4 separate regions of the Homo sapiens genome follow, and regions 1, 2 and 4 are each linked to region 3. Evidence: fine-mapped QTL for protein levels in blood plasma. A gene starts in region 3. Each other region holds a variant in brackets. All regions are shown on one strand. Distances are between the middles of the regions.

Evidence for each region. PIP is the chance, under the fine-mapping model, that this variant and not a neighbour inherited with it causes the effect. Protein levels are from antibody-based Olink assays in UK Biobank. Linkage for the fine-mapping came from a reference panel and not from the study's own genotypes, which makes the PIPs less certain.
Region 1: its variant is fine-mapped to the plasma level of the TNFRSF10C protein (UK Biobank, PIP above 0.99). The variant lies in the coding sequence of TNFRSF10C. If it changes the protein, the assay may bind it differently, which can mimic a change of level.
Region 2: its variant is fine-mapped to the plasma level of the TNFRSF10C protein (UK Biobank, PIP above 0.99).
Region 4: its variant is fine-mapped to the plasma level of the TNFRSF10C protein (UK Biobank, PIP above 0.99).

Annotation. Positions count from the first base shown.
Region 1 is chr8:23,112,502-23,117,501 of GRCh38, reverse strand. TNFRSF10C (TNF receptor superfamily member 10c) reads right to left here. Exons shown (of 5, transcript NM_003841.5): 3 at 2,732-2,845; 4 at 1,886-1,994; 5 at 57-861. The coding sequence ends at 471. Among named protein-coding and RNA genes, the nearest start is that of TNFRSF10C, 12 kb to the right of the region's middle. The variant AC/C (reference allele first, on the strand shown) is at 2,743.
Region 2 is chr8:23,143,691-23,151,581 of GRCh38, reverse strand. TNFRSF10D (TNF receptor superfamily member 10d) reads left to right here. Exons shown (of 9, transcript NM_003840.5): 3 at 3,031-3,144; 4 at 4,510-4,621; 5 at 5,661-5,914; 6 at 6,493-6,524; 7 at 6,947-7,132. Among named protein-coding and RNA genes, the nearest start is that of TNFRSF10D, 16 kb to the left of the region's middle. RefSeq lists an enhancer at 6,265-6,992. The variant A/G (reference allele first, on the strand shown) is at 3,387.
Region 3 is chr8:23,102,748-23,109,481 of GRCh38, reverse strand. TNFRSF10C (TNF receptor superfamily member 10c) reads right to left here and starts at 6,561. Exons shown (of 5, transcript NM_003841.5): 1 at 6,301-6,561. The coding sequence starts at 6,360. It overlaps LOC254896 (a long non-coding RNA gene), which reads right to left. Exons shown (of 4, transcript NR_046173.1): 4 at 5,924-6,734. RefSeq lists an enhancer at 5,687-6,496.
Region 4 is chr8:23,165,992-23,173,882 of GRCh38, reverse strand. No RefSeq gene overlaps it. Among named protein-coding and RNA genes, the nearest start is that of TNFRSF10D, 5.9 kb to the right of the region's middle. RefSeq lists an enhancer at 1-283 and a silencer at 5,230-5,410. The variant C/T (reference allele first, on the strand shown) is at 4,675.

The DNA.
Region 1 (5,000 bases), 8.9 kb before region 3:
ACCCTGAGGAAGGGGGATGAGAAGGGGAACTAGAGTAAAAACCAACACACGGAAAATCTCTGTGTTCTGCTCTGACCAAGGCTGAATAAATCCCGTGACCACTTCTCATCCTCACCCTTGTCACCCAGTTGAGGAGCCGACTGCCCCCTGCCTGGCTGGGCCTGAAGATGGGAGGAACTGGCCCTGCCCTCTTGGACTTGGCTGGGAGATGTGTGGACCCCCAGCTCCAGGAGAGGGACTGATGAGACCAGGGTCCTGGGGGGTGCACGGGATGTGGGGATGGGACGATCACAAGGAGGAAGATAGAGCCAGGCTGGAGACACCAGGACTTGGGGCAGGGGCAGGCGTTTCTGTCTGTGGGAACACAGCAGAGGGAGGCAGGGCAGAGAGTGTCCAGCGCCCCCCGCCCTCAGCCAGCGCCTACCTGAACCTTTCAGGTAAGGAAGGAATTTCTTCCACAGTGAAGTCTTTCAAACAAACACAATCAGAAGCACAATTAGAACTATGATCCCTACGATGGTGCATGAGAGGTAATGAGAAGAGGCAGGAGTCCCCGGGCTGGTGATCATTGTCTCTTCAGCAGCTGGGGCAGGAGTCCCCGGGCTGGTGGTCATTGTCTCTTCAGCAGCTGGGGCAGGAGTCCCCGGGCTGGTGGTCATTGTCTCTTCAGCAGCTGGGGCAGGAGTCCCCGGGCTGGTGTTCATTGTCTCTTCAGCAGCTGGGGCAGGAGTCCCCGGGCTGGTGTTCATTGTCTCTTCAGCAGCTGGGGTTTCCACAGTGGCATTGGCACCAAATTCTTCAACACACTGGATATCATCCCAGGACGTACAATTACTGACTTGGACTTCCCCACTAGGGCACCTGGGTACACACAGAGAGGGAGGTGAGGACTCCTGAGGGAAAGCTAGCCAGGTGGGATAAAAGGGGAGCCACCCTCCCTCTCCAATGTCCCTGAGAAGGTGTCAGGGGAAGGACAGGCTCCTGTCTGGAGGGGGTCCCCCAAGTTCCCTCGTTGAGGCTGGGGAAGGGTCTGAGCATGCGCATTTCAGCCCCTCAGCCTCCCTGCTCTGGGGCCACAGGAGCCTTCTGTGCCGGGCACACACTGAGCTTCCCTGGGCTGCAGAGGAGGCCTGCGTTAGGAGGAGCCACACTCCAGGGGAAGGTCACGAGCCCTTGTGGCCACAAGCTGAGCCCCTTCCTCCAGTCAACCCACAGTACAAGTGATCTCTCACCCCCAACTGTCTGCTGGTTCCTCCCTATCACGGCAAACATTAGGGGGCCAGAGAAGAACAAATTACTCTTGGCCCTTAAAGCCCAAATAGGGAAAAGACAGGACTTATTGAGGGATTGGGGCCAGGGGTGAGGCCGGCTGGATTGGCTCAGGCCTTCATGGGAACTTGAAGGAGCTCCACCCACAGCCTTCTTATGACTTTTGTCGGCCGTGACCACTTTTGTCTTTATGGGTCCTGCCTGCATAAAAAATATTAAAAAGAACATTTTTTAAAACAGCTTGGTATAGCAACAAATACAACCCAGACTGGATTCAAGTGTTTTCTTCTCATTTCAAAAGGAAATCGCATTTCCTAGGTTTGCTGAAAAGGATCAAGGGATCCAGAAAGTTGCTTCTTGTGCCCAGTGAACAAGTTGGTCTGGCCAAGGGGACTCGTGCTGGGGAGGGTCTGGGAAGGGGCTGCTGCAGGGGGTAGGGGTGGGGACAGGCAGATGGACCAGGAGCGGCCACTGCAGACCCAAGAGACCCCACAGGCTCAGGGACACCCCATGGGTCTGGAGGCTCCATAGGGTCAGCGGAGAAATAGGGGTACCAGGTGACTCAGGTCTTCTCGGGTTCCTGAAAGCTGTCAGGAGCCCCTGACTGCTGTCTCACCTGCTACACTTCCGGCACATCTCTGGGGAGTTTTCATTCCGGAAGGTGCCTTCTTTACACTGACACACTGTGTCTCTGGTCATGGTGCAGGAACTTTTATGTTTTTGATCTGACAACAGAGCATAAGGTTTTGGGAATGTGTTTCCCTGATGTATCCCTCGATCTTCCTTACCACCCACCCCCTCCCACTCAGCTCAACCAAGTTCACCAAGGAGTTCTAAGGGCCAGTTTCTGCACCAGCACACTCAGGGCTCATACAGGACACCCACCCTTCAGCTGTCACCAGCACTCAGAGGAGTCATAAAAAGGAGCATAATTCATTATTTATTACATCAGATTAGGGGAAAAGCATTGTTTAGATGGCATGGTCAGTAGCAAGGGAGGTGCAAGGGCATCACCTGAGAGACTCTGCAAGGAGACGGAGGCCTTGGGGGACTTCCCCAAAGCCTGGGCCTGCTGGGGAGGAGGAAGGGGCCTGAGAACCTGAAGGCTGAGTGAGGCCGAGCACCTGCCAGGAGCACAGAGCCTGGGGGAGAGAGCCTGGCCCTGGAGCAGACCCGTGCCACTACTGAAACCTAGCCCTGTCCACTGGGCCAGGCCTTCTCTATGCTCTAATGATCCCCCCACCCTCTTGCAGCTGACAGTTTAGACGATTTCCCAGCCAGGTGGCATGCATTATAGAAAAGATTTCTTTCTATTTTTTTAATCAGTCAAATATATAATCATAGAACAGGGTGATGAAGACCAGGTTGGGCTGGAACTTGGTTCCCTGACTCATATCGGCTACAACTCCCACCTCATTGCCCCACGCTCCACCTCTGGACAAGAGGTCCACACATTCTGTACCTGATTTACAA[AC/C]TGTACATGGGAAGCAAGAAGGTTCATTGTTGGAAGCGTTGGTGTAATCCACACCCTCTGTGCACGGGTTACAGGCTCCAGTATGTTCTGATCTATGAGATCCTGGGAAGGAAGAGAAAAGCCAATGAATGAGTCACCACAGAATTCCCAGAGGCTGACAGTGGTGGGGAAACTTCTTTTTTGGCCCTCACTGGAATTGAGACAGAGAAATCCACTCTTCCAGGCTTGGTCTTGTCATCCATTCAGCATCTATTACATACCTTTGACTGGCACTGCTGACAGAAATATAATACAAAATTCAAATTCTATGCAAAATTCAAATTCTATGAGAGCCATATTAAAATAGTAAAAAGAATGAGGCCAAATTAATTTTAACAATATAGTTTTAACCTAAAATATCTGAAATACTACATTTCAACATGTAATCAATACACATCATTGAGATATTTTACTTTTTTTACGCCGTCACTCACAAAATAACATCCAACCTACTGTACATGTGATCTGCCCATGCTGGTCCACCTGACCTGTTTGCTGTCCACTCACCACAGTGGCCCCCTGTCTTCGCTCAGTCTCCCCAAGCCCCCGAAACCTGGGGTTCTCATTCCTTCAGGGCCTTCTCAAGAGCACTCTTCCTGGCTCTCTGCAAGACTGGCCCTGTCCAACTTTAAATATCAGCCCAAATCACCATCCCCGAGAGGCCCCACCAACCTTGTCTATCTCCTGTCACTTAACTATTCTTCATGGTTCCCATCAGGACATCCTGACTGTTATGTATATTCATGTGTCTTTTTTTTTTTTTTTGAGACAGAGTCTTGCTCTGTCACCTGGCTGGAGTGCAGTGGCACAATCTCGGCTCACTGCAACCTCCAACTCCCTGGTTCAAGCGATTTTTCTGCCTCAGCCTCCCGAGTAGCTGGGATTATAGGCGACGCACCACCACGCCCAGATTTGTATGGAACTACAAAAGACCTCAAATAGCCAAAGTGATCTTAAGCAAAACAAACAAAAGAACAAAGATGGAGGCATCGTACTACCTGATTTTAAAACGTGTTACAAAAGTATAGTAATCAAAACTGAATGGTAATGGCACAACAATGGTAAATAAACTGATGGAACAAAATAGTGAACCCAGGTATAAATCAATGCATTTACAGTTGATTGATTGTGAGAAAGATACCAAGAACACAAAATGGGGAAAGGACAGCTCTTCAATAAATGGTGTTGAGAAAAGTAGGTATTGACATGCAGAAGAATGAAATAAGACCTTTATCTCACATCATATGTAAAAATTAATTCAAAATGGACTAAAGATTAAAACATAAGATCTGAAATGGTAAAACTACCACAAGAATACATAGGGGAAAATTTTCATGATGTTGGTCTGGGCAATGGTTTCTTGACTATGACCCCAAAAGCACAGGCAACAAAAGGAAAAACAGACAAATGAGGTTACATTACACTAAAAAGGTTCTGCATGACAAAGGAAACAATGAACAGAGTGAAGAGACAACCTACAGAATGAGGGTCAATATTCAAAAGATCCAAGATTTTGGTTAAAATCCAAAATACACAGGAACTCAAACATCTCAATAGCACACAATCAAATAATCCAAGTAAAATGGATACATGGGCGTGGGACCTGAATAGACACTTCTCAAAAGGAGACATAGAAGTGGCCAAAAAGTATATGAAAAAAATGCTCAGCATCACTAACCATCAAGTGCCAAATATCACTTCACACCTGTAAGAATGGCTATTACCAAAAAGACAAAAGGTAACAAGTGTTGATGATGGGGAGAAAAAGGAATGCTGGTACACTGTTGGTGGGAATGGAAATTAGTACAGCCATTATGGAAAACAGTATGGAGGTTCCTCAAAAAACAAAAAATAGAACAACTATATGATCTAGCAATCCCACTATTGGGTATACATCCAAAGGAAATGACGTCAGTATATTGAAGAGATATCTTCCCTCCCATATGCATTGGAGCATTATTTACAATGGTCAAGACATGGAATCAACCTACGTGTCCATGGATGGATGAAAAGTTAAAGAAAATGTGACACATAGATACAATGGAATACTATTCAGCCTTTAAAAAGAAGGGAGTTCTGTCATTTGTGTCAGCATGGATGAAGCTGGAGGATACTATGCTAAGTGAAATAAGCCAGGCACAGAAAGGCAAACACCTCATGATCTCACATATGTGGAATCAGAAAAAGTTGGTCTCATAGAGGTGGAGAGCAGAATGGT
Region 2 (7,891 bases), 42 kb before region 3:
AAAAAATACATTGGGCTTTTAACTTTTATAGTAATGATGTAAGTAATTTGTACACTATTATGATTGTATTAGAATATTCTGAACTTGACCATGTATTTAACCACCTAGTTTTATATTTTCGCATGGTTTTGTGTATCCAGTTAGTGTTCTGTTCTTTCAGATTGAATAACTCTCTTTAACATTTCTTGTAAGGCAATACATGCTAAAGATGAACTCCCCCCGTTTTTTTTTTTCTTTGTCTGATAAAGTCTTTACTGCTCTGCATTTCTAAAGGACAGGCTTGCCAGGTGTAGTATTCTTGGTTGGCAAGGAATTTTTCCTTTCTGTACTTTGTATGATTCCACTCTCTCCTGGCCTGTAGGTTTTCTGCTGAGAAGCCTTTGGTAGTTTTATAGGGGTTCCTTTGTACATTGCTTGTCTCTTGCTGGTTTCAAAATTCTCTTTGCCTTTGATGTTTGGGAATTTGTTTAAGATGTGTCTTGGTGAAGATCTCTTCATATTTATCTGTTAGGGGTTTTTTGGGCTTCATGAATGTGGATGTCCATTCCCATCCTGTTTTGGGACATTTTCTTTAATTATTTCTTTAATTACACTTTCTGTTCCTTTCACTTTCTCTGATGCTCCTTGGACCACCATAATGCATATATTGTTTTGCTTCACAGTAACCGTTGGTACTGTTGGCTTTCTTCCCTCTTTTTCATTCTTTATTTTTTTTTTCTTCCTGTGACTTGGTAATTTCAAATGATCTGTTTTCAAGCTCACTGATTCTTTCTTCCGATTAATCAACTCTGCTGTTGACATTCTCTGTGGAATTTTCTTAGTTCAGATATTGTGTTGTTGTTAATTTTAGAATTTCTGCTTTCTTCTTTATTATGTTGTCTGTGTATATTAAACTACTCATTTTGTTCATGTATTGTTTTCCTGACATGACTTAGTTGTCTATCCATATTCTCTAGTAGCTGACTGAGCTTCTGTAAGATGACTGTTTTCAAGTCTTTGTCAGGCTGTTGTAAATGTCTATTCCTTTCGGGTTGGTTACTTGTGCTTCATTTTGTTTCTTTGGTGCCGTCACTGTTCCCTGATTGCTCAGGAGCCTGTGGCAATATGTTGGAATGTGCACTTTGAAGAAGCAGGGACTTAATCCAGTATTTACAGACTGGCTTTGTCAGGGAACGCCCTTCACCAGTCAGCCTGTTCACAGATTCTGGGCAGGCCATGTGGTGTGGTTCAAGGGTGGTCAGAGCCAGTATCCAGAGAGGTGACCTGAGGCCTGGCTCCATGAGGGCTGAACTGGCACTGGAATAGGCCTTGTACTTGGGTCTGCAGATGTCAGCCAGGTGCTGTGATGGGTCTCATCCTTGGGTCCACAGGGAAGGGCCTGGAGCCTGAGTTCATGGGGACTGACCTGGCACTAGGACAGATCTGGAAGCTGAATCTATGGAGGTGGGTCAGGATCCTGGGTCTGTAGTGCTAGCCCGAAGGCACAAGCTAAGACTGATATCTTAGCTTATCATGCCTTTATCATGCCCTTATCTCTATGTGTTTCCAGACTTCTGTTTCCTGCACTTTCTGGTTCTTTATTCCATAGGGACATGTTGGATGATTTCTGTCAGTCAGGCACCGTGCTAATGGGATAATTATAAGAGGCCCTGCCCTCGTGGAACCTTTTCTCTGGGATAGTATTAAGACACACAGATCAAAATAACAGTCAGAAATTCCTGATAGGAACCATGAAGAAATTAAGTGATGAGTGAGACAGAGACGAGGTTGGTGGGGCCTCTCGGGGATGGTGATTTTGGCCAGTCTCCAAAGCTGGACAGGGATAGTTGTGCAGAGAGCCAGAAATGGTGCTCCTGAGCAGCCTCCCTAGGAATGACAGTCCCAGGGTGCAGGCGCTGGGGGATACCGAGCAGAGACGGGGCCACCATAGTGAGTGGACAGCAAACAGGTCAGGTGGACCAGCATGGGCAGATCACATGTAGATGAGGTTGGATTTTATTTTGTTATTTTATTTTATTGTTAAAAAAAAAAAAAAGTAGACTGGGCGTGGCATGGTGGCTCACGCCTGTAATCCCAGCACTTTGGGAAGCCGAGGAGGGTGGATCACCTGAGGTCAGGAGTTGGAGACCAGCCTGGCCAATATGATGATACACCGTGTCAACTAAGAATACAAAAAATTAGCTGGGCGTGGTGGTGGGTGCCTGTAATCCCAGCTACTCAGGAGGCTGAGGCAGGAGAATCGCTTGAACCTGGGAGGTGGAGGTTGCAGTGAGCCAAGGTCGCGCCATTGCCCTCCAGCCTGGGTGACAAGAGTGAAACTCTGTCTCCAAAAAAAATTTTAAAAAAGATAAAATATTTCTTTTCTTTTCTTTTCTTTTTTTTTTTTTTTTTTGAGACAGAGTCTTGCTCTGTCGCCCAGGCTGGAGTTCAGTGGCACAGTCTCAGCTCACTGCAAGCTCTGCCTCCCGGGTTCACGCCATTCTCCTGCCTCAGCCTCCCGAGTAGCTAGGATTACAGGTGCCTGCCACCACGCCCGGCTAATTTTTTGTATTTTTAGTAGAGATGGGGTTTCACTGTGTTAGCCAGGATGGTCTCGATCTCCTGACCTCGTGATTCGTCCGCCTTGGCCTCCCTAAGTACTGGGATTACAGGCGTGAGCCACCGTGCCTGGCCAAAAAAAGATAAAATATTTCAAATATTTATATTGATTACATATTGAAATGTAGTGTTTTGGATATTTTTAGGCTAAAAAATAGTTAAAATTAATTTGACCTCATTCTTTGTACTATTTTAATGTGGCTTTCATAGAATTTGAATTTTGCATGTGATTTGTATTATATTTCTGTCAGCAGTGCCAGTCAAAGGTATGTAATAGTGTAATAGATGCAGAATTGATGACAAGACCAAGCCAAGAAGAGCAGATTTCTCTGTCTGGATTCCACTGAGGGCCAAAAGAGAAATTTGCCAGCCATTGTCAGCCTCTGGGAATTCTGTGGTGACTCATTCATTAACTTTTCTCTCCCTTCCCAGGATCTCATAGATCAGAATATACTGGAGCCTGTAACCCGTGCACAGAGGGTGTGGATTACACCATTGCTTCCAACAATTTGCCTTCTTGCCTGCTATGTACAGTTTGTAAATCAGGTACAGAATGTGTGGACCCCTTGCCCAGAGGTGGAGTGCATAGTGATGAGGTGGGAGCTGTAGCCGATGTGAGTCGGGGAACCAAGTTCTAGCCCAACTTGGTAGTCTTCATCATGCCCTGTTCCATGATTATGACTAGTTGATTAAAAAAAAAAAATAGAAATCTTTTTTTTCTTTTCTTTTATTTATTTATTTTTTTGAAGACAGTTTCACTCTTGTTGCTGAGGCTTGAGGGCAATGGC[A/G]TGATCTTGGCTCACTGCAACCTCTGCCTCCCAGGTTTAGTGATTCTTCTACCTCAGCCTCCTAAGTAGCTGGGATCACAGGCATGCACCACCACACCCAGCTAATTTTTTTTTTTTTTTTTTTTTTTTGGGAGACGGAGTCTCGTTCTGTTGTCCAGGCTGGAGTGCAGTGGCGCGATCTCGGCTCACTGCAAGCTCCGCCTCCTGAGTTCACGCCATTCTCCTGCCTCAGCCTCCTGAGTAGCTATGACTACAGGTGCCCGCCACCACACCCGGCTAATTTTTTTTTGTATTTTTAGTAGAGACGGGGTTTCACCGTGTTAGCCAGGATGGTCTCGATCTCCTGACCTCGTGATCCACCCACCTCGGCCTCCCAAAGTACTGGGCTTACAGGCATGAGCCACCGTGCCCAGCCAGTTTTTTGTGTTTTTAGTAGAGACAGGGTTTCTCCATGTTGGCCAGGCTGGTCTCGAACTCCCGACCTCAGGTGATCCGCTTGCCTCAGCCTCCCAGAGTGCTGTGATTACAGGTGTGAGCCACTGCGCCTGGCCAAAATCTTTTCTGTAATGCATGCCACCAGGCTGGGAAATCTTCTAAACTATTGCCTGCAGCCGGGTGGGGGCATCATTACAGCATAGAGGAGGCCTGGCCCAGTGGACAGGGCTGGGTTCCAGCAGTGGCACAGGTCTGCTCCGTGGCCAGGCTCTCTCCTCCCGGGCTCTGTGCTCCTGAAAGGTGCTTGGCCTCACTTAGCCTTCAGGTTCTCAGGCCCCTTCCTCTTCCCCAGCAAGGCCGGGGCTTTTGGGAAGTCCCCCAAGGGCCCCTCTCCTTGCAGAGTCTCTCAGGTGATGCCCTTGCGCCTCCCTTGCTACTGACCATGCCATCTAAACAATGCTTTTCCCCTAACCTGATATAATAAATAATGAATCACGGTCCTTTTGTATTGGTCCTTACATACAGGGTGGGTGTCCTGTATGAGTCCCGAGTGTGCTGGTGCAGAAACCAGCCCTCAGAACTCCTTGGTGAACTGAGTTGAGCTGAGTGGGAGGGGATGGGGTGGTGAGGAAGGGTGGACAGACATGTCAGGGAAACACATTCTCAAAACCTTATGCTCTGTTGTCAGGTCAAACAAATAAAAGTTCCTGTACCACGACCAGAGACACCGTGTGTCAGTGTGAAAAAGGAAGCTTCCAGGATAAAAACTCCCCTGAGATGTGCCGGACGTGTAGAACAGGGTAAGACAGCAGCCAGGGGCTCCCAACAGCTTTCAGGAACCTGAAAAGACCTGATTCACCTGGTACCTCTATCTCTCCGCTGACCCCATGGATCCTCCAGGCCCGAGGCCTCCCTGAGCCTGTGGGGTTTCCTGAGCCTGCGTTGGCCCCTCCTGGTCCATCTGCCTGTCCCCACCCCTACCCCCTGCAGCAGCCCCTTCCCATACCCTCCCCAGCAGGAGTCCCTTTGTCCAGGCTGAATTGTTCACTGGGCACAGGAGGTGACTTTCTAGGTCCCTTGAACCTTTTCAGGCAACCTAGGAAATGTAATTTCCTTTTGAAATCAGAAGAAAACACTTGAATCCAGCCTGGCTTGTATTTTTCCTTACTCTAAGTTGGTTTAAAAAATGTAATTTTTAATATTTTTTATGTGGGCAGGGACCCATAAAGACAAAAGTGTCCGTAGCCCACAAAAGTCATAATAAGGCCATGGGTGGAGCTCCCTTAAGTTCCCATGAGGACCTGAGCCCACCCAGCCGGCCTCACCCCTGGCCCCCGATTTCTCACTAAGTCCTTCTTTATCCTATTTGGGTTTTAGGGGCAAAGAGTAACTTGCTCTTCTCTGGCCCTCCAGTGTTTGCTGTGGTTGGGAGGAACCAGCGGCAGACAGGGTGGGGCGAGGACTCACTTGTACTGTGTGTTAACTGGAGGAAGGGGCTCAGCTTGTGGCCACAGGGGCTTGTGATCTTCCCCTGGAGTGCGGCTCCTCCTAACGCAGGCCTCCCCTGCAGCCCAGGGAAGCTCAGTGTGTGCCCAGCACAGAAGGCTCCTGGATCTACAGCTCTGACCCCAGAGCAGGGAGGCCGAGGGGCTGAAGTGTGCATGCTCAGACCCTTCCCCAGCCTCAAGAAGGGAGCACAGGGGGACCCACTGCTGACACGAGGAGCCTGTCCTCCTGACGCCTTCTCAGGGACTTTGGGCAGGGAGGGTGGCTCCTCTTTCATCCCACCTGGCCAGCTTTCCATCAAGAGTCCCTGTCTCCCTCTCTGTGTGTACCCAGGTGTCCCAGAGGGATGGTCAAGGTCAGTAATTGTACGCCCCGGAGTGACATCAAGTGCAAAAATGAATCAGCTGCCAGTTCCACTGGGAAAACCCCAGCAGCGGAGGAGACAGTGACCACCATCCTGGGGATGCTTGCCTCTCCCTATCACTACCTTATCATCATAGTGGTTTTAGTCATCATTTTAGCTGTGGTTGTGGTTGGCTTTTCATGTCGGAAGAAATTCATTTCTTACCTCAAAGGCATCTGCTCAGGTAGGTGCTGGCTGAGGGTGGGAGCGCTGGGCACTGTCTGCCCTGCCCTCTCCCACTCCGTTCCCACAGACAGTAATCCCCATCCCTGCCCCTGGTCCAAGCGTCTCCAGCCTGGCTTGGTCTTCCTTCTTGTGATCGCCCCATCCCCACGTCCTGTGTATCCCCAAGGACCCTGGTCTCATCAGTCCCTCTCTCAGGGCTGGGGGACCCCTCATCTCCCGGAGCCAACTCCAGGAGGGCAGGGCCAGTTCCTCCTATCTTCAGGCCCAGCCAGGCAGGGGGCAGTCAGCTCCTCAACTGGGTGACAAGGGTCAGGATGAGAAGTGGTCGTGGGATTTATTCAGCCTTGGTCAGAGCAGAACACAGAGATTTTCCACGTGTTGGTTTTTACTCTAGTTCCCCTTCTCATCCCCCTTCCTCAGGGTGTCCCCTAATTGCAAGGCCCCATTCTGTCCCCAGCCCCAGGGCTCCTTGTCCAGTGTCCCAGCCCCCAGCCAGCCCTGCGCCCCACTGTCCTCTGGGAGGGAGGTGCTGCATGGGCCCCTCCCCGCCTGCTCAGGAGACTGCTTCTTTTCCAGGTGGTGGAGGAGGTCCCGAACGTGTGCACAGAGTGAGTTGGTTTCTCCAGAAACTGGGGGCTTCGTGGGTTCAGGAACTGCTTCCCATCCACTGCCGAGCCTGGGTGGGCACAATCCCTTGTCCTCATGGCTGCCCTGACTCTCTGACATGGCCTGGGGGATCTGGGCTGACTGTGGGGGACACACGGCCATTTTGAGCAGCACACAGACCAGCAGGCCGTGCTGCAGCCCTGTCCTTCCTGCAGCCTCGGTGACACCATCACTCCACAGCTGGCCCCATGGGGATGGGGTGACCACCTGACCCACCTCAGCATGGGGTCCTGGATGTGCTGAGCCTCAGCTGCCTGGGGTGACCTCATTGGAAGGGGTTGGGGATGGCAGGTCCAGCTGTGTACTGGGGACCCTGAAGCTGAGCCCGGGGTGTGGACTTGAGTGGGCTCTTTGTCTTCCCAAGGTCCTTTTCCGGCGGCGTTCATGTCCTTCACGAGTTCCTGGGGCGGAGGACAATGCCCGCAACGAGACCCTGAGTAACAGATACTTGCAGCCCACCCAGGTCTCTGAGCAGGAAATCCAAGGTCAGGAGCTGGCAGAGCTAACAGGTGTGACTGTAGAGTTGCCAGAGGAGCCACAGCGTCTGCTGGTGAGTTGAGGAGGGACTGTGCCCTGCCTGGCGTGCAGCCTGCACAGGACTTTGTAGACAGTGGGACATGGCAGTGCCTCCTCTTTCCTGGCCCAAGGGGACATGGAGCCTTTGGGAGACAGGGGACTGCAGGGGACGGAGCAGCTGCACTGAGGTGGTGACCGTGCCAGTCTGCAGGACATCTGCTTCTTACTCCCTGTCCTGTCCTTGCTGTGTCCCCAGAGCCTGGATCTCCACAGGCATAGAGTGGGTGTCACAGGGTTCACTGAGGACTGAATAAGGCTGCACAGTCTCCATCGTGTGCTCCTAACAGAAGTCAGGGAGCCCTTGCTTGAAACAGCGGAAGTTTTAAATGTTCTTCAAAATTCTTACTACATTGAACATATTTCACAGTAAATCTTTGTCCAGATTTCTGATCAAGTATGTAAGGAGGCTTCTGGGAAGAAGTAGGATTTCTGAGTCAGTGTGTAGAAGTGCTTTTGTATTACAGAAACACACACATCCAGTTATTCACATCGATTCACTAGTTTTGATATGACATTGAGTAGGTGTGAAATCTGGACACACATTTGTTTTTTTTTAAGTTCTTTCCTTCAGGATAAAATAAGATGATCCTACCTAATTTTTTGTGGACTTTTAAAGAATGATTTGGTTTGTAGCATACACCAGTGGAACGTAGGTGCCATTTCTTTTGTGATGCTGTGTGAAGTGAGGAATTCCCTGAATTGTTGTGAGTCACTGTCTCCTTCCTCCACGCCT
Region 3 (6,734 bases):
GTATTTTTAGTAGAGACAGGGTTTCACCGTGTTAGCCAGGATGGTCTCGATTTTCTGACCTCGTGATCCACCCTCCTCGGCCTCCCAAAGTGCTGGAATTACAGATGTGAGCCACCGTGCCCGGCCCATAATTTTCACGTTTTTTCTTTTTTTGACAGCTTTAGTGAGACACAATTCACATAATTAATAATTATGATTATTCATATAATTCACCCATTTAAAGTCCACACTTCAGCAGTTTTTAATATACTCATAGCTATGCAATCATCACTATAATCAATTTTAGAATATTTTTATCACTCCAGAAAGGAACTACATACCCTTCAGCAGTAACTCCCCATCTCCCTAACCCCCAGTTTTTTAATACAAACATTGAAAGCTGTATATTTCACCCTGAGCACTGTTAGCTATTTCGCACCACTTTTGATGTGTTATATTGTCATTATTACTTACTTTGAAATATCTTACCTTCCCTTTTGATTTCCTGTCTGAACCACAGATTTTTAGAAGTGTGTTGTTCAATATCAAAATTTTAGAATTCTCTGTGGATATTGTTACTGATTTCCAGTTTAGTTTCATTAAGTTTAGAGATCATATTGTGTGTTTTATAGCCCAGAACCTGGTCTATCTTGGTGAAAGTATCATGAGCATAGAAAGGAATGAGTGTTCAGTGAATGTTCCACTCCTGCTCTTTAAATGTCAGTTAAATCAAGGTGGTTGATAGTGTGCAGATCGCTTGCCACTTTACTGGCATTTTCATCTAATCATGCTAGCAAGTGCAGAGAAACAGCTGAGTTAATCTCTTTTTAATTCTATTTTTGTGTCATGTGTTTTGAAGATGTATTACTAGGCATATACAATTTGTTGTTATTATACTCCTTGAAGAATTAACCCTTTTAACTACAAAGGTCCCTTTTCATCTCCCATAATATTCAATGTCCTAAAATTGTCACAGTAGGCAGCTAGTTAGGTATGAGCAGGACAGGAGAGGGGTCCCCGCTTCTGACACCAGCAGTGTTGGGCGACCATCAGGTAGTTGATAACTGTGTCTCTAAAGTAATAACTGGTTACAGCCGATGCCAGAAAAAAGCAGTTTCCTAATACATAGAAAACACTTGAAACTGATCAGCAGCTTCCCAATAAGATTTCAGGAGTGGGGAGAAGTAAGGCAAGATCCTGGAAGTAGGCCAACCTATAAAACCCCAACTCAGGCGGTCCGGCTGCGTACTGTTTCTCAAGTCACCTGCTTGGCCATCTTCCAAGTGTACTTTCCTTCTTTTCTTTCTGTTCCTTCCTTTCCTTCCTGTTCCTTCCTTTCCTTCCTGTTCTAAAGCTTTTTAATAAACTTTCACTCCTGCTCTGAAACTTGCCTCCATCTCTGCTTCTGCCTTATGCCCCTCAAACCAGTTCTTTCTTCTCAGGAGGCGAAGAGCTGAAGGTGCTGTGGACGCATACGGATTCGCCGCCTTCAACGTAGGGTAACTCGGATCTCATCCACCGCTAACAAAATCAACTTCATCTGATACTGAGATAGCCATGGCAGTTTTCTTGGCCTTACACTCTGCATGGTGTATCTTTTTCCATCTATTTACTTTCAACAGACAACATCTGTGTCTTCCTTTTAAGGCCCATCTCATATAGACAAGATATAGTTGAGTCTTGCTTTCTCAGCCCTTCCAAACATTTCTACCATTGAACTGTAGTGCTCAGTGGATTTACAGGGAGTGCAATAATTGATATAGTTGAAATAGACCTGTAAGTTTACCATTTAAGCTATGATTGTCTAGTCTAATTTTTTTACTCCTTTTCCCCCTGCACATTTTAATGTTAATTACCTTTTAGAATTCCATTTTAATTGGATAAACTGACTTTTTATGCATACCTATTTCCATGATCTATGTGCAAGTGCTATAGGGAATACAGTATACACTCAAGTGTTTACATTCTATTGAAGGTTTTTTAAAAATGGATTCATTGAGGTATAATGGGCATGAAACAAAGTGTACATTTTTGAAGCATGTAGTTTGGTAGATTGAGACGTGTGTATACATTGTGGAACTACCACCACGATAAGAAAATGACATGTCCACCACACCCCAGAATTTCTTCATTCTTCAATGTAATCCTCTCTTCCGCTTTGCTCCTATGTCCCCAGCAATAATTCTGCTTTTTGTCAGAATAGATTGGTCGAATTTTAATGAGAAATGGAATCAGATGGTAAGCATTCTGTGTGGATTCCTTCACACGACATAATTTTCTGTGTTTTTCTGTTTTTCTGTTTGTTTGGTTTTTTGTTGTTGTTGTTGTGACCGGGTTTTGCTATGTTGCCCTGGCTGGTCTTGAACTCCTGGGCTCAAGTGATCTGCCTGTCTTGGCAGGACTACAGGTGTGAGCCATCGCACCCTGCCCACCCTGGTCAATTGACTATTATGAATTAAAGGCTATTGAAAAACAACAGGTGCAAGAAGATCCTTTGACCTCTTTTGTGTTTCCTAAAAGCAGGAGATGAAAGTCCCCAGGGAAACATAGGACAATCTCCTTTTTTTTTTTTTCTGAAAGCTCTGCTTCCCAGGTTCTCACCATTCTCCTGCCTCAGCCTCTCCAGTAGCTGGGACTACAGGCACCCGCCACCACACTCCGCTAATTGTTTTGTATTTTCAGTAGAGACGGGGTTTCACTGTGTTAGCCAGGATGGTCTCGATCTCCTGACCTCGTGATCCACCTGCCTTGACCTCCCGAAGTGCTGGGATTACAGGCGTGAGCCACCGCACCCAGCTGACAATTTCCTTATTTTTAAGGATGAGAAGTCGAGGCCAAGAGGGTACTGTGCAGACCATGTTAGAATGGATCCACTCTCATCTTTTTAGCTCCTCACATAGTTACTTGCTTCTTCATGAGTTACTTGGTCTAATTCAGTAAATAAGTAACTGACTCTCACAGGTTCTTCCATGCCAGGTAAAACTTGAATTAAATAAATGTGTGTGCTTGTCTCCTGTGGACCTCTCTTAGGTGAATCAAATTCTCAGGCCCAGCTAAAAAAAAAAAAAAAAAAATCGGGTGGGGGGGCATCTAAAGGAGAGCTTCGCTCCCCTCCCTGACCCTCAATGGTGACTGTAATCAAACCACATCTTCCAGGCCAACAGTACCACATCCTATGGCCCTGCAACAGCATGGCCTCTCTCCAGCACAGCCTCTCTGGAGGAGGGGGAGGCAAGGGTAGTGAGATCTCAGGCCTCCTTCATGCTACCTCCTATTAGTTATATAATCCCTGGGTCACCTCTCCCACCACACTGCGGGCTCCAGGGAACAGGATTCACATGGGGTTCATTTGTCCTCCCAAACTCCGGCGGACTCCAGGCACAGGTGTTCTCAGAGTAAAGGGCTCACTGTTTACTTCCTGGATGAATCACTTTCCCCTCAAGCCTATGAAGTGCGCGCAGTTGTGGCCTCAGCTCAAGGCCGAAGGACAGGCTCCAAGAGCCCTGTGAACTCTGCTGAGGAACCATAAGAGCTCCCAGAGGCCAAGGGCAGGACAGAGATCAGAGAAGCAGCTGCTCAGAGAACTCTAGCCCTGAATCTCATTTTACCACTTGTAAAACAGGAAAAACAACCTACCTTCATCTCCCCGGGTTGTTAGGAAATCCACTACATGAAGATGTGCATTCTCTGGCTGGAAGCAGGATACCAGCTGCCCAACGGCAGAGGCTCGGGGCATGGCACTGTCCCCACTGTCCCCATCCCTGACCTAGAAGCTAGAGCCTCACTGCCCTGCCACTCCTGGATACACGACAGAGGACCAGAACTGGGACTGTGGCCTCTCAGTACAGCCTGGGTGAGTAGCCATCTGCAGCCACCTGGATGGAGACATTTCCTGCTCACTCTTCAAACTACAACCCGGGCCAGGCGCCTACCAGAAGGACAACTGGAAGCATGGCAGGTAAACCAGGCTGTGGCCCTGCAGTGCCATCGCTGTCCTCACTTGACGTCTGGCTCCTCTGTTCCTCCATGGCCCCTCCCCGTGGTGCTCCACCCTAGTCTTCAGAAGCTTCTGCCCCAAGCTCAGGGAGCAAGTACCAGGGTGCAGGTAGGAACAGGGGCAGCCTCTGCTGGATGGAGGACAGGTGCCTGGGGATCCAGTCCAGAGTGAGTGACACCAGCCCTGAGGATGTGATTTGTCCTCCCACACCTGGTAACACAGCCCTCTGAGGTTTACACAGGGCTGCTGAAGATTTTTACCTCCTCTTCACTTTACAGGCAGGAGCTGGGGCCACACCAGAGTCACAGAGCCAGAGGGGGAGCACGGCAGGGCCCAGCCATTCACAACCTTCAATCTCAGGAGTCCTTGACAGCCTGAGAGTCCGAGATTCTGAGCCGTTGGAACTTCTCAATTCCTACTTTGATAGAGAGAGGAATGGTGTGGAAGGACCTGGCGCACAGATTGGACCAGCCCAGCATTGACAGAGCCAGGACCTGGGGTCAGGAACTGAACTCAGCTCCAGGCTCATCTGAAGTCACCCTGACAGGCTGAGGATGGAGACCTTATCTCCATTCACAGGCATGGTGGGTGGCAGGGACTGGCCCCAACTGACCAGGGTTTTCCAAGTGCACAGCTCAGAATTCAGTCTTCCCTGCTGTCTCATCTGGATACCCTGGTCTACTCCCAGTACCAAAAAACTCCTATATCCTTGAAAATTCCTAATACCATGAGGAAACAAAAATACATAGCAATGTGATGTGTTATGTTTTACATCTTAGACTAGTAAAGAATGAAAGCTAAGTGTAGCAAAGGTGTAGGGACACAGGCACATTTGTGGACTAGGTGTGACTGTAAGCTGGGTTCAGTGGTTTTTTGGAGGAAAATTCGTGAACATTTAAAGAAACTTCTGAAGTCATTTATCCCACAGAAGGAGAAGTAGAATTCAACTTGTAAGGAGTTGCCCAATAAGCTGGTGTGCATGGATATGTGGACACACGATACATACAAGGGTATTTAGTACAATGCTGTTGGAATTAGCAAAGGCCGTCAGGATGGGATCTAACCAGCTGCCCCTAGGCGGCAACAGTGAATTAAAATGTGGCTTACCCATGCAGTAAAATACAATACCCTTGTTTAAAAGAAGATCAATCTGAATGTACTGCCATAAAACATCTAATGTGATTTGTGTTAGCTCCAAAATTTAACAAAGTGATTGTACATTTAAATGCATTTAATAAGGCAAGACTGATGGAGGGATTAAAGCCTCCTTTGGGACGCATAGAGTTCACATTCCCAAAACCGTGAAACTGATGTTGCTGGCCTTGTCTACACTGGTCATCCATGCATTCTCTCTTCAGGGCCACTGTCCTGACACAGCCATTCTTCTAGCTGCCTCAGGTAAGTCCACCCACTATAAACTATTTTAAAAGTCAGTTGTGTAATTTTTGAGAGGTGAAAATGTTACTGCTTTTCTGAATTTAGCATTAATTTGTAGAAAGACAACATGCAAACTCTCATGGTTTCTGTAACCTTGCTTTGGCCTTTTCTTTTTCTTTTTTCTTTTTTTTGTATTACATAAAGAATCTTAAAAAGGGCTGTTAGCAAAAACCTCAATCAATCTGAAAGAGACCTAGAAGTCTGCATATTTTATACATAATATGTCCTTGCACTCACACTACTACCAATCTCAGTTTCCAAAGCCAACTCACAACAACTTTACACCGTTTATGCTGAAGGAAGGGGCCAGCCCCGGTCCTGCCTATGGGATACAGAGGGGACACACGGGTGGTAGTGGAAGACATTAACCAAGGCAGCACCTTGGTTAACCGCTTCCTGCCACATTCCGGCTTCCTGCCACTTTCAGGACAGAGGAGGTGAAAGTTGCTAAAGACAGCGCTGAAAAGTTTTTTCACTGGCTGTTGGTTAAACCGATCTCCAAGGAACACGTTTAAGAATGTAAACATGGGGTTAATTTTATTAACTAATTAATTAATTAATGAGAGAGGCAACCGCTCTGTGTCTTCAGGAGGCTCACTCTATGGGTTCCACCTTGACTCCCTCCCTCTCTCGATTCTGGAACTTCCCTCCCTTCGCGGGCTCGGGGCAGCCAGGGGGACCGCCTCTCTGCTCCCTCGCGGCCGGGTCCCTCCTGCCCAGCCCGGGGACCCAGTTCTTCCCCTGACTCCGACGGCGAGTTCGTCCTGCCCGGACATGCCCGGCCGCAGGTGACCAGGGCCAGGCATCCCTGCCGTGTCCCCGTCTCCCTGCCCCCTCCCGGCGCCAGGTGCGCTCTTCCCCAGCCAGGGACCGCGGCCGGGACTCACTGGCAGCAGGACCGCGACGATGACGACGACGAACTTTAGGGTCTTGGGGATCCGGGCCATGGTATGGTTCCCGACGCCGTCCTGGGTCCTGGGTCGCACCCTGCCTCGGCCATCAGGCGGCCGGGGCGCTCTGTCCCCAGAGTTCCCTAACGGTAGGAAGCGCTCCTTCACCCCTTGCATCTCTGGTCAAACTCCCAAAAATCTATCAGAAATCGTTGGCTGAGTTCGTGCGCGTGGAGAGGTTCCCACAGCTGCACTGCCAGAATCGGAGCGCAGCGCCTCTGAATTTATACCCGCGGGGGAAAAGGCGTGGTCACTTGTCACTTGCAGCAGTCACTTCCAAGCACTCAGAAAAGGGGCATGGCCTCCCCTAGCACCTCCAGGAAGGCCTGGGTTTTGGTGGTGGGTGCATGGACGGACAGGAACTGGCTCTT
Region 4 (7,891 bases), 64 kb before region 3:
CTGTGCGGCCCAAGCCTCCCCGACGAGCACCTCCCCCTGCTCCATGGCGCCCCAATCCCATGGACCACCCAAGGTCTGAGGAGTGTGAGCACACGGCACGGGACTGGCGGGCAGCTCCACCTGCAGCCCCAGTGCGGGATCCACTAGGTGAAGCCAGCTGGGCTCCTGAGTCTGGTGGGGACGTGGAGAGTCTTTATGTCTAGCTCAGGGATTGTAAATACACCAATCGGCACTCTGTATCTAGCTCAAGGTTTGTAAACACACCAATCAGCACCCTGTGTCTAGCTCAGGGTTTGTGAGTGCACCAATCGACACTCTGTATCTAGCTGCTCTGGTGGGGCCTTAGAGGATCTGTGTGTCAAAACTGTGTATCTAACTAATCTGATGGGGACGTGGAGAACCTTTGTATCTAGCTCAGGGATTGTAAATGCACCAATCAGCGCCCTGACAAAACAGGCCACTCGGGTCTACCAATCAGCAGGATGTGGGTGGGGCCAGATAAGAGAATAAAAGCAGGCTGCCCGAGCCAGCATTGGTAACCCCCTGGCGTCCCCTTCTACACTGTGGAAGCTTTGTTCTTTTGCTCTTTGCAATAAATCTTGCTACTGCTCACTCTTTGGGTCCATGCTGCTTTTATGAGCGGTAACACTCACCGTGAAAATCTGCAGTTTCACTCCTGAGCCCAGCGAGACCACGAGCCCACCAGGAGGAATGAACAACTCCAGACGCGCTGCCTTAAGAGCTGTAACACTCACCGCGAAGGTCTGCAGCTTCACTCCTGAGCCAGCGAGACCACAAACCCACCAGAAAGAAGAAACTCCTAATACATCTGAACATCAAAAGGGGCAGACTCCAGACGTGCCACCTTAAGAGATGTAACACTCACCGCGAGGGTCTGCGGCTTCATTCTTGAAGTCAGTGAGACCAAGAACCCACCAATTCCGGACACAAAATTACACTGATCAATATATTCATAGTTCGAGATACTTCTGGGAACCGATGTGTGGATTTTTCCCACCCTGACCACTTTTCCCACCTCAGATGAGTGCCCCATAATTCAATTCACTTCTTTTTTTTTTTTTTTTTTTTTTTTGAGACGGAGTCTCGCTCTGTCGCCCAGGCTGGAGTGCAGTGGCGGGATCTCGGCTCACTGCAAGCTCCGCCTCCCGGGTTCACGCCATTCTCCTGCCTCAGCCTCCCAATAGCCCGCCATCACGCCCGGCTAATTTTTTATGGTTTTTAGTAGGGACAGGGTTTCACCCTGTTAGCCAGGATGGTCTTGATCTCCTGACCTCGTGCTTCGCCTGCCTTGGCCTCCCAAAGTGCTGGGATTACAGGCATGAGCCACCACGCCCAGCCAATTCAATTCACTTCTGACACAAATCGGAGGTAGTGCCGACCCCACAGGGCAAGGACTCAGTGCCACAGACTCCCCCCACTTCAGGTGCAAATCACAAGCAGGTGGTCTGATATGGTTTGGCTGTGTGTCCTCACCCAAATCTCATCTCAAATTGTAATCCCCACATGTCAAGGGGGGAACGTGGTGGGAGATGTCTGGATCGTGGGGTTGGTTTCCTCATGCTGTTCTCATGATAGTTCTCGCAACTTCTGATGGTTTTATAAGGCTTTGGCAATTCCTCATTCACTCTCCCTTCTGCCGCCTTGTGAAGAAGGTGCCTGCTTCCCCATCGTCCTCCGCCATGACTGTAAGTTTCCTGAGGCCTCTCCAGCCATGTGGAACTGTGAGTCAATTAAACTACTTTCCTTTATAAGTTACTCAGGCTCGGACCATTCTTTATAGCAGTGTGAAAACAGACTAATACAGTGTCCCCAAGTCGTCCACGCCTTCTGTCTGACTTAGCTACTGATATATATTAGTGTTTGGTGACCCTAAATGTCTCAAAATAAATTCACTTGTGACAGAGGATCAGCCCACATTGAAATTGCTGACCCCTCAGAGTGAGAAGCGTATGTGTGGTGGACTGAGGTGATAAGAGGATTTGCTGTGGACGGGCACCCCCTAGACCAGACAAGCAAGTGAAGCCAGAAGGCAGCTGAGATCTTGGCTACAGACAAGCCTGCAGAGGGCCATAAAAACCGCAAAGACTCTGACCATAGCCAAGCAGCTGCTGCAGCTCTGCCCCCAAGAACTCTGAGGCCTCTTTCCCATGGGCTATGGAAGAAGAGCAGCGACCCCCACCCTGGTCCATGTTCTGAGGAAACCCGGACCTGCCAGTGTGTCAGTCAGCGTGCTGGTCTCCTGACATGCTCACTGTGGTCCCTTCCCCACCGTCTCATCACCGCCTGTGTGTGTTGACTATATTTGCATGAGTGTGTATGTGCAAAAGCCACACAATAAACTGTGAATTCATAAGAATTTCATTGGCCATTGAGTCATTGTGAAAACTCCTGGTTCCCCCACAACTAGGCTAATTAGAACCTGACATGGGAGCCACCAACTGACAATTCCCATGTTCTGCATCTCAGGTTTCATCATTCACTAGGCCAGCTCACAGAAGCCAGGAACACAGTTTACCTGCTATTGCCAATTTATTACAGAGGATATTTTTAATGATATCAATCAACAGCCAGATGAAGAAGGTGAGGGTTGTGAGGGTGCCCAGTGCAGGAGCTCTGTCCCTGTGGAATTAGAGGGTGCCACCCTCCCTACATACAGATGTGTACTTGTTCACAAACCCAGAGGCTCTCTGAACTCTGTCTTTTTGGGCTTTTTTTTTTTTTTTTTTTTTTTTTTTTTGAGACGGAGTCTCGCTCTGTTGTCCAGGCTGGAGTGCAGCAGTGCTATTTCGGCTCACTACAAGCTCCGCCTCCCAGGTTCACGCCATTCTCCTGCCTCAGCCTCCCAAGTAGCTGGGACTACAGGTGCCCGCCACCACGCCTGGCTAATTTTTTGTATTTTTAGTAGAGATGGGGTTTCACTGGGTTAGCCAGGATGGGCTCGATCTCCTGACCTCGTGATCCGCCCACCTCGGCCTCCCAAAGTGCTGGGATTACGGGCGTGAGCCACCACGCCCGGCCTCTTTTTGGGCTTTTTTGGGGGCTTCATTGCTCAAGCATGAGTGATCACTGGCCATTGGTGATCACCTCAACATTCAGCCCCTCTTCTCTCACCAGAAGCTGGGATGGGGGAGGGCATTTGCAGCTTCCACCAGGTAAGCAAAACCCAAGCAAAACTTCAGCAGGGGCTGAAGGTTCAACCCTCTGATCACAGGCTGGTTCCCCCCACCCCGAGGCTGTCCAAGAGCCTCCAGCCATCAGTCATTTCACTGGCATACAAAAAACACATTGATCACTTGAGAGATTCCAAGGATTTTCAGAGCTTTGTTGCAGGAAACAGGGCAGAGATCAAATATGGCACAAATAAAATAATACATATTTGATCTTTTGAGTTGCATATCCTTTTGCTATGAGGGAGTCCATGGCCAGAGACCAGACTGATCTCTGGCATGGACTCCCTCATAGCAAAATCAGTCTGATCTCTGGCCATGGATTCCCTCATAGCAAAACGATACACAATTCAAAAGATACTGGTAGGTTACTAGGTCCTCCTCAGTCACTTATAATTAGTCCACTCCAGCATCATATCATATACAAATGTCTCCCAGGGACCGGGTGTGGTGGCTCACACCTGTAATCCCAGCACTTCAGGAGGCCGAGGCTGGTGGATGATCTGAGTTCGGGAGTTCAAGACCAGCCTGACCAACATGGAGAAACCCCATCTCTACTAAAAATACAAAATTAGCTGGGTGTAGTGGCACATGCCTGTAATCCCAGCTACTTGGAAGGCCCAGGCAGGAGAATCAGTTGAACCCGGGAGGTGGAGGTTGCAGTGAGCCGAGATCGCGCCATTGCACTCCAGCCTGGGCAACAAGAGAGAAACTCAGCCTCAAAAAAAAAAAAAAAAAAAAGCATCCCAGGATGAGACCACTCAGGTTTTTAGGCCTCCATTCCACCTGTCAGGTTCCAAAAGCAGGACAGGTCTCAGCAAATATGGAGCTTCCCCCTCTCAGACATCTGGGATAATTGAGCTAAGAGACAATGTCTTCTCTTCCTCTGCGTCTCTTTCTTGGTATTACTGTAATACAAGATTTTCCCCATTACATAAACCATTTATTCATTATTTTACTCTCAGCTCCTCCTCCTTCTTCTTTTCACTTATATTCAAAGTTTTCCACTTTAAAAGGAATTGTGATGGGCCAGCTTGCTGACAGCAATACTCATGCAGCAAGCGTATCCCCTCAATCTACTTCCATTCATATAGGGCAGGGTTACATAGGTGCAGAACTAGTGGGCTATTTTACCAATAGGCAATGTATTAGTCCATGTTGCGTTGCTATAAAGGAATAGGTGAGGCTTGGTAATTTATAAAGAAAAGAGGTTTATTTGGCTCATAGTCCTGTAGGCTGTACAAGCACGGCACCTGCATCTGCTCAGCTTCTGGTGAGGGCCTTAGGGAGCTTCCAATCATGGAAGAAGGCAAAGCGGAGCCAGCACATCACATGGTGACAGGGATCAAGAGACAGAGGTGAGAGGTGCCAGACTCCTTTAAGCAACCAGCTCTCGAGTGAACTAATAGAGGAAGGACTCATTCACTACTGTGGGGAGGCAGACAGCCATTCATGAGGGTTCTTCCCCCATGACCCAAAACACCTT[C/T]ACCAGGCCCATCTCCAACATGAGATCCTGTTTCAGTATGAAATTTGGAGGGACACACATCCAAACCATATCAGGCAATGTAGCTGCATATACGGTTAGCTTCTATTTTGCCAGGTGGGGCAAAGCACAACCCACACCCATCAGGTCTGTAAGAAAATTGACAGAAAAGTCTAAACACATAGTCTCAGTTCCTGGCTTAGGAGTCGTCGCTGCTTCCAGCACTTGTAGTTGTAGCCCCGGTCCTGTGGCCACTGCACCAGGTGGTGGGTGGGGAGGAGGGGAGAGTTGAGGTAATGCGGGGAAGAAAGACAAAAATGACAGTCATTGGCCGGGCGCGGTGGCTCATGCCTGTAATCTCAGCACTTATGGGAGGCCAAGGTGGGTAGATCACCTGAGGTCAGGAGTTTGAGACCAGCCTGACGAACATAGTGAAACCCTGTCTCTGCTAAAAATACAAAAATTAGCTGGGCATGGTGGCGGGGGCCTGTAGTCCCAGGTACTCAGGAGGCATCACTTGAACCTGGGAGGCGGAGGTTGCAGTGAGCCGAGATCATGCCATTGCACTACAGCCTGGGTGACAGAGTGAGACTGTGTCTCAAAAAAACCCAACAACAACAACAAAATGACAGTCATTATACTAGCATCCTCCCCACCCCCTCATCCCCAGATCCACTGGAAAAATGGAGGAAAGTCTGGTGGGGACACTCCTTTAGCCCACTCGTGTGGAGTAGGGGCACACACCAGTGAAGGTGTGGAAGCCAGCCCTTCATGCCTGTGTCTCCCCCCATTTTAGACAATCAATGTTTCAGTTGACTGTTCCGCTTCCCTATCAAATTATTACTCTAAGGAGGATATCTCTCTGCCCATTGCTAAACATTATGCACTGAACAGCCTGTTTCTCGGTCCAAGGAAGTTCGGTTTAGTGGTCCAAACTAGAATAATACCTTCTTTCAGTTCTTTTATATTAATAGCACTCTGGGCATTTGCAGCCTCCACCAGGTAAGGAAAAGACAATCCACAGTCAGTTTCTGTTGCTGTCGAGACTCACCTGTACCCCCCAGGGCACTGCCCTCAGTCTCACTTTCCAAGTATGTTGAGGGCCTCCTCATCAGGGAATCTGCCTCATAGCTATAGGCAGTCTCTGTCTCTCCCGCTGCTAGACAGAACAGCTCTTATTGGTGTCATGTGCCTGAGAGAGAGCAAGAGGAATGTGTTTCGATTCAGCCCATCTCTGCGTCACTGTGGTTCCCCCATATCCACTTCTTTTGCTTCGTGGCCTCTGGTGACCACCTCAAGGGAGTACACGGGGGTATCTCTTGCTGATTACAGTCACTTTCTAAACCTGAGGGTGGGTTCTACTGACCAGCATGGGCGTGTCTTACTTTAATGCACTCCTCAAGCTCCCCTAGAGATTTCCATAGGGTCGGGCCTCATATGGACATCCCTACACTAGGTCAGTTTCCCCTTACTCTTGGAAACAATGGAAAATGTAGAGACGAATATCCAAATTTAATACCCTTTATTTGGAAAGTAAGAATTGCAATTCTTGGCATACACAAAGACCAAGTTGTCTTTGGTACGTCCAAAGAACAAAGAGAAGTTTGGAAGTTTTTTTTTTTTTTTGAGACGGAGTCTGGCTCCGTTGCCCAGGCTGGAGTGCAGTGGCGTGATCTCCGCTCACTGCAAGCTCCGCCCCCTGGGTTCATGCCATGCTCCTGCCTCAGCCTCCCGAGTAGCTGGGACTACAGGTGCCCGCCACCACGCCCGGCTAATTATTTTGTATTTTTAGTAGAGACCGGGTTTCACAGTGTTTGCCAGGATGGTCTCGATCTCCTGACCTCGTGATCCGCCTGCCTCGGCCTCCCAAAGTGCTGGGATTACAGGTGTGAGCCACCGCACACGGCCAGATGTTTTTTTTTAAATGAGAAATACTAAGTATTTTTTTTTGCAGAAAGTTCATTGGCGCTGTAAAATTTGAAGAAGTGGCATGCTCTGACTGGTGAGTGACTGCAGTGGGTCAGGCTGGTCTTAGAGCAGCAGCTGGTTGTGTCAATAGATATAAGACAGAACTATTAATAGTTTCACGTTACAGCTGCCAGACTTACAGAGAATTGCAGTTTGGGGGTAATACAGTGATTTTTCTTCCCCATGGCCTCTTGACTCTGTTTTAGTTGGGTGTGACAAGAATGACCCAATTTGTGCGATCAACTTTCACATTCTCCTTCCCAACTCTATGACCGGGACATTGACGACTGTCCATGAGCCAGAAAAAAACTCAAGTACAGGGGCTTTTGCTGCTGTTCAAATCTTCCATAAGGCTAGGAAAATAGCATGCAATCCAACCCACCTAGCCAATTTGCCTTTGCCTTCTTCCATCAGAGGGGTGGCCTTCCAAGTAGGATGTTGTCCATTCATCTAGGAATGACTGTCTACAAACTAAGTAGCTCTTGGTCAGTAAGTAAAGAGCTGTGTATAGGGCAATGTCCAAGTGACCACAGAATCCAGCAGCTCCTCACCCAGTTCCAGACTCAGTCTGAGGGGAACAGAGGCTCCCTGCTCATGAGTGTCTCCTCTTTGCCTTCCTCAGGCACCAGGATCCCATATCAACCATTTCCATTTTTTAGGCTGAGTGAGGTGGCTCACGCCTGTAATCCCAGCACTTTGGGAGGCTGAGGCGGGTGGATCACGAGGTCAAGAGATCGAGACCATCCGGGCCAACATGAAGATCCCTCGTCTCTACTGAAAATTCAAAAATTAGCCAGGCGTGGTGGCATGTGCCTGTAATCCCACCTACTCGGGAGGCTGAGGCAGGAGAATCGCTTGAACCCAGGAGGCAGAGGTTGCAGTGAGCCTGGATCGTGCTGCACTCCAACCTGGCAACAGAGTGAGACTCCATCTCAAAAAAAAAAAATCCATTTTGTAATAGAACTCTTCTGGGACTGGCCTCCCCGTTAGAGCTTTTCCAAGATTCCTGAAGACATCATCAGTTTTTCAGGTTTCAAGATTATTTTATGTCCTTCAGTGACAGGGGAGACTTCAGTTAGTGTTCCATCTCAAGCTAGTAAGTGCCTCTTAAGTGGAAACTTGACTCTAAAGGCCCAGTTCCTTGGAGGTGCTCACAGCCTTTTGCCATTAGCCCTAGTCAGTGCTCCACACAGGGCACAGAGAATGCGTTGTTACCTGCAGTCTGGTTTCTGGTCTATACTGTGTGGTCCAC